Homo sapiens: one gene and its partner. The protein of the gene in region 1 purifies or fractionates together with the protein of each later gene. This does not show direct contact. Each region holds a gene or a part of one and is shown in the gene's direction. Other genes may lie near its edges.

The links.
Region 2: the proteins of STAP2 (region 1) and STAT5B purify together in Homo sapiens (co-immunoprecipitation; one study listed by IntAct). This does not show direct contact.

What each region holds. Positions count from the first base shown.
Region 1 is NC_000019.10:4,326,036-4,328,995, reverse strand, and holds part of STAP2 (signal-transducing adaptor protein 2), read left to right. Parts: intron 1-186; coding exon 187-321; intron 322-1,610; coding exon 1,611-1,680; intron 1,681-1,769; coding exon 1,770-1,872; intron 1,873-1,988; coding exon 1,989-2,054; intron 2,055-2,960. UniProt on the Homo sapiens protein: Substrate of protein kinase PTK6. May play a regulatory role in the acute-phase response in systemic inflammation and may modulate STAT3 activity.
Region 2 is NC_000017.11:42,198,375-42,201,050, reverse strand, and holds the end of STAT5B (signal transducer and activator of transcription 5B), read left to right. Parts: 3' UTR 1-1,874; downstream 1,875-2,676. UniProt on the Homo sapiens protein: Carries out a dual function: signal transduction and activation of transcription. Mediates cellular responses to the cytokine KITLG/SCF and other growth factors. Binds to the GAS element and activates PRL-induced transcription.

The sequences.
Region 1 (2,960 bases):
CAAAAACTAGGAGCCTGGAAGGCCGGACTGGGTCTCCGTGGGAGGGGCCTGGGTCTGGAGAGCAGGGCAGGGTCTCCTGGGCCTAGGGGATGGGGATGGGGCTGGGTCTCAGAGGAGGCAGGGTTTACGTGCAGAAGAGCGGACTTGGTCTCCGGGGTCCCGAGTGGGTGACGCGGCCCGCCACAGGTGCTTCCTGAAGGTGAGCCGGCTGGAGGCACAACTGCTCCTGGAGCGCTACCCCGAGTGCGGGAACCTGCTGCTGCGGCCCAGCGGGGACGGCGCCGACGGCGTGTCGGTCACCACGCGGCAGATGCACAACGGGTGCGCATGCGCGTCTGGAGAGCCCTGGGTGGGAGGAGGGTGGGAAGAGGGTGGGCGCGGGGGCGTGGTCAGAAGCAGGGGCGGAGTCCGACCCGCTAGTGGGTAGGCCAGGGGACGGAGCCAGAGCCGAGACGGGCGTCTGGGGACGGAGTCAGAGCTGAGCTGGGCGGATTGGGGGAGGAGTCAGAGCTGAGGTGGGCGGATTGGGGGAGGAGTCAGAGCTGGGCTGGGCGGATTGGGGGAGGAGTCAGAGCTGGGCTGGGCGAGCTGGGGCGGGTGGAGTCAGAGCTGAGCAGAGTACACTGGTGGCGGAATCAGAGCTACGCTGGGCGTGTTGGGGCGGAGTCAGAGCTGGGGTGGGCGGGCTGGGGGAGGGGTGGAGTCAATGCTAGGCAGGGGAGCATGGGGGCGGAGTCAGAGCTGGGCAGGGAGGGCTGGGGGCGGGATCAGAGCTCCGGGGTCGTGGGATCCTGAGGCTGGCCTTGCCCCAGGTATGGGGTTAATGCCTAGGGAAGAAGGTAGAGCCCAGGCCGACTCCTTTGCAGGAAGAGCCAGGTCTTGGGTTAGGAGCTGGGACTCCCTGTAGGTGGAGTCAGACTCCTAGGTTAGGATCGGCCCCTCCGGAACGTCAGGTACGCAGGGGCCAGGTCTGGGCCACTGGAGGGGATGAAGTCAAATCCAGGGATGGGAATGGGCTCTTTGGGCAGCGTCAGGATCTACGGGGGGGAGTCATGGCCGTGATCCTTTTTGGAAGTTGAGTAGGGCTATGGAGGCGGAGCCAGCCCTGGGGGCGAAGTCAGAGCCTTATGCCAAATTCTCAAGCCCAGTCCAGGGTTGGGCAAGGCGATGTAGAAGGTAGAGTCGGTGCCTGGGGGTGGAGCCATTACAGGGGGCGGGGCCTACCTGGGGCGGGGTCTTTAGGGCCTGGTTCTCCCTAGGCGCGGTGCCAGAATTAGGGGCGGACCTTTCCTAGGGTGTTGTCAGTCTGGCCTGGTCCCTCGCTGGAGGTGGTGCCAAGACTAGAGGTGGGGTCTTCTGTGGGGGTGGGTCGGTCGGGCCTGGTCCCCGCTGGGAGCAGTGCTGGGATCGGGCAGTCAGTGCTCCGGGAGGTCAACGGGGCTTAGGTCCTTTATGGGGTGGAACCAGTCAGTGGCGGGGCCTTCTGTGGGGGCGGAGCCAGTATGGACCTGTTTCTATTGGAGGCGGAGCCTGGAGTTGGGGCGGGGCCTTCCCTGAGGGGCGGTGTGGGAGCCTGGGCTGAGCCACTCACTCGCTTTCTCCTGGTGCAGGACGCACGTGGTCCGGCATTACAAGGTGAAGCGGGAGGGCCCCAAGTACGTGATCGATGTGGAACAGCCGGTGAGCGTTGGGCCAGAGTCCCTAGAAGTGACTTTGTGGGGTCCGCGTCCCTTCTCCAGCAGCCTGACCGCTCCCCCATCTGCCCCCAGTTCTCTTGCACCTCCCTGGACGCCGTGGTCAACTATTTCGTGTCGCATACCAAAAAGGCGCTGGTGCCATTCCTGTTAGACGAGGACTACGAGAAGGTGCTAGGTGGGTGCCCCTTCGGGGAGTTCGGGGGCCCAGTGCTCACCTCTCCCGCCCCCGCTCGGACGGACCGGGCCGCCCCTGGCCGCCGCGCTTCCTCCAGGCCGCCCTCTCTGTTCCAGGCTACGTGGAAGCCGATAAGGAGAATGGCGAGAATGTGTGGGTGGCGCCCTCCGCTCCGGGCCCAGGTGACGCCCCCTTCCCGCGGGCCGAGGTGGGAGGGATCGAGGACCCCGCATTCAGCCACGCCCCCTCAGTCAGTTTGGTGGCTGCACCTCCTGCATCTGATGTTCCCAAAGTTGCAGGGACAGAAATGACTCAGACCCTGCCGTCAGGGTGTGTGTGTGGGGGAGGGGGCGGGGGTCCCAGCTTGGGACAGAGCTAAACACAGACACTCTCATCCTGTAGGGTTGAATTTGGGGTGGAGGAAAAACCTGGGCTCGGGGGAGGCGCCTAGAGTTCGGGAGAAGATGGGGGCAGAGCAGGGAAAGCTTCCCAGAAGAGTGGGTCTTTGCAGATGGTCCCAAAGGATCTCCTTAGGTAGAAATGGGCATTGAGGGGTCAGAGGGTACACCCGGACAAGCAGTAGCCCCACAGGGACCGAGAATCCGGGTGGGTGTTGGGAAAGAGGTGGAAATCGGTCCTGTTTATGGAGTGGGAAGAGGAGGCAGAGAACACACTAGAAAGGAATGTAGCGTGGGTTGTCTGGTCTTCCCTGGTCTGGGCGTATGCAAGGACCCCCAAGTGCCACATCCACACACACATTACACATGCATGATCCATGCAACTGTGGCCACCTGCCTAGCCAGAAGGTGACACACACTTGTGCGGGCACAACAGATCACACATGCATAAATACACGTGTGCCCCAATTCCAGTCACATACAAATGCTATGTAGCACAGATACACCTGTGTCATGCCACAATCACATGTGTACACATAAATGCAGATACGTCCGTGCACCGGCACAAACTCGGACACGTGTAGATACACGGGCAAAACGCACTCATGTAGACAAGGACTAAAGCAGCCACCTCAGCAGGCGTGCAGTCACACACGTATACACACCACAGGTGTGTGTGTACAAACGTTG
Region 2 (2,676 bases), on another chromosome or scaffold:
CCCCTCCTGCCCGCCCGCACCCTGGAATTGCCACTCAGTTCCTCTGGGTGTGCACATATGTTTGGAGAAATAGAGGAGAGAAAAGAGGGCCACGTAACTGAGAGCTTACAGTGCCAATGCCGTTTGTGTTCTGGCCAGAGTGGAGTGCGCAGCCCTGACTCCCAGGCGCTGAGATTGTTGCCTGGTTACCCAGGAAGCTGCTGTTCCGGCTGCCCAGCCTTTCTCTGAGCCAGCGGATGCACAGTCCGTGGCCTTCTTCAGGCTTATTGATGATGCTTTTTGCAAATGTTGAATCATGGTTCTGTTTCTAAGTTGGATCTTTTTTGTTTTCTCCTTGCCACCCTAATTTGACATCAAAATTCTCTCTTGTGCATTGGGCCCTGGGTCATTCAAACCCAGGTCACCTCATTCCCCTTCTCTGTTCACACCTAATGTCTTGAAGAGTAGGTAGCAGCAGTGTGGGCTGAACCTAGGCCAGCTTGCTTAGCGGGTCACCCTGCTGTGAAGTCCTGGCAGGTGTTGGTAATGTGTGGAAATGCAGTCAGCAAGTTTGCTGGGGAGTTTGATAAAAGTATAAAACAAAACAAAAAAAGCCTCGGTATAATTTTGTTCCACGACTTCTTCTGTAGCTTTACACCAGAAGGAAGGAATGGGCTACAGCAGGTAGTGGAGGAAGAGGGGGGTGAGCAGGTGTATTAAAATAGCTTACGGGTAAGGCCTAAAAGGTCACCCCTCGGCCCCCTCTCCAAAAGAAGGGCATGGGCACCCCCAGGAGAGGATGGCCCCAAAAACCTTATTTTTATACATGAGAGTAAATAAACATATTTTTTTTACAAAAATAACTTCTGAATTTATCAGTGTTTTGCCGTTAAAAATATTCCTCTATAGTAAATTATTTATTGGAAGATGACTTTTTTAAAGCTGCCGTTTGCCTTGGCTTGGTTTCATACACTGATTTATTTTTCTATGCCAGGCAGTAGAGTCTCTCTGCCTCTGAGGAGCAGGCTACCCGCATCCCACTCAGCCCCTCCCTACCCCTCAAGATTTGATGAAAATTCCAACCATGAGGATGGGTGCATCGGGGAAGGGTGAGAAGGAGAGCCTGCCTGCTCAGGGATCCAGGCTCGTAGAGTCACTCCCTGCCCGTCTCCCAGAGATGCTTCACCAGCACCTGCCTCTGAGACCTCGCTCTCTGTTCCAGCAACCCTGGTTGGGGGGTCAGACTTGATACACTTTCAGGTTGGGAGTGGACCCACCCCAGGGCCTGCTGAGGACAGAGCAGCCAGGCCGTCCTGGCTCACTTTGCAGTTGGCACTGGGTTGGGGAGGAAGAGAGCTGATGAGTGTGGCTTCCCTGAGCTGGGGTTTCCCTGCTTGTCCAGTTGTGAGCTGTCCTCGGTGTTACCGAGGCTGTGCCTAGAGAGTGGAGATTTTTGATGAAAGGTGTGCTCGCTCTCTGCGTTCTATCTTCTCTCTCCTCCTTGTTCCTGCAAACCACAAGATAAAGGTAGTGGTGTGTCTCGACCCCATCAGCCTCTCACCCACTCCCAGACACACACAAGTCCTCAAAAGTTTCAGCTCCGTGTGTGAGATGTGCAGGTTTTTTCTAGGGGGTAGGGGGAGACTAAAATCGAATATAACTTAAAATGAAAGTATACTTTTTATAATTTTTCTTTTTAAAACTTGGTGAAATTATTTCAGATACATATTTTAGTGTCAAGGCAGATTAGTTATTTAGCCACCAAAAAAAAGTATTGTGTACAATTTGGGGCCTCAAATTTGACTCTGCCTCAAAAAAAAGAAATATATCCTATGCAGAGTTACAGTCACAAAGTTGTGTATTTTATGTTACAATAAAGCCTTCCTCTGAAGGGATGGTATTGAGTCCTGTTTTTACTTTTTTCTGTCACATGCCAAGGGAGGGCAGCTTGAACACGGAAAAGTTTCAAGTCATCAGCGTGACCCTGAAAAAGGGAACTGGTTGGGTGGTTGGGAGTTGGCTGCCTCAGAGGGCACGTCATTAGCTCTGATGGCAGATGGGGCCTTTCATACCTTCCTGCTCATATGATGTTTTGAAAATAAGAATGATGGTCTCCTAGCCTCCTGACTCCAGAAAGCTTGTTAGCCAGGATGGTCTCGATCTCCTGACCTCATGATCTGCCCACCTCAGCCTCCCAAAGTGCTGGGATTACAGGCGTGAGCCACTACGCCCGGCTGAAAGCCTGTCCTTAAGATTCAGCACATTTAGAGTACCTGACCCTGAGTTCAGCGTTGTGTGTGGGATGAGAAATGGTGCCTTCCCTGCAGAGGCTCACAGTTGGAGAAAGGCAGCTACCACAACTGATTATGCTAGGATATCGCTTCCTGCTGCAATCAAGGCATCCCAAAGTCATTATGCAAAAGAACATGCAGGAAGGCCACTGAGCAACTCAAGCTTTTTTTTTATTTTATTTTTTTATTTTAATTGAGTAGCTGGGATTACAGGCGCCACCACTCCCGGCTAATTTTTGCATTTTTAGTAGGGACGGGGTTTCACCATGTTGGCCAGGCTGGTCTGGACCTCCTGACCTCAGGTGATCCACCTGCCTTGGCCTCCCAAAATGCTGGGATTACAGGCGTGAACCACCATGCCCAGCCTGGAGCTGGCTCTTAAGGAACAAATAGGGCCGGGCACGGT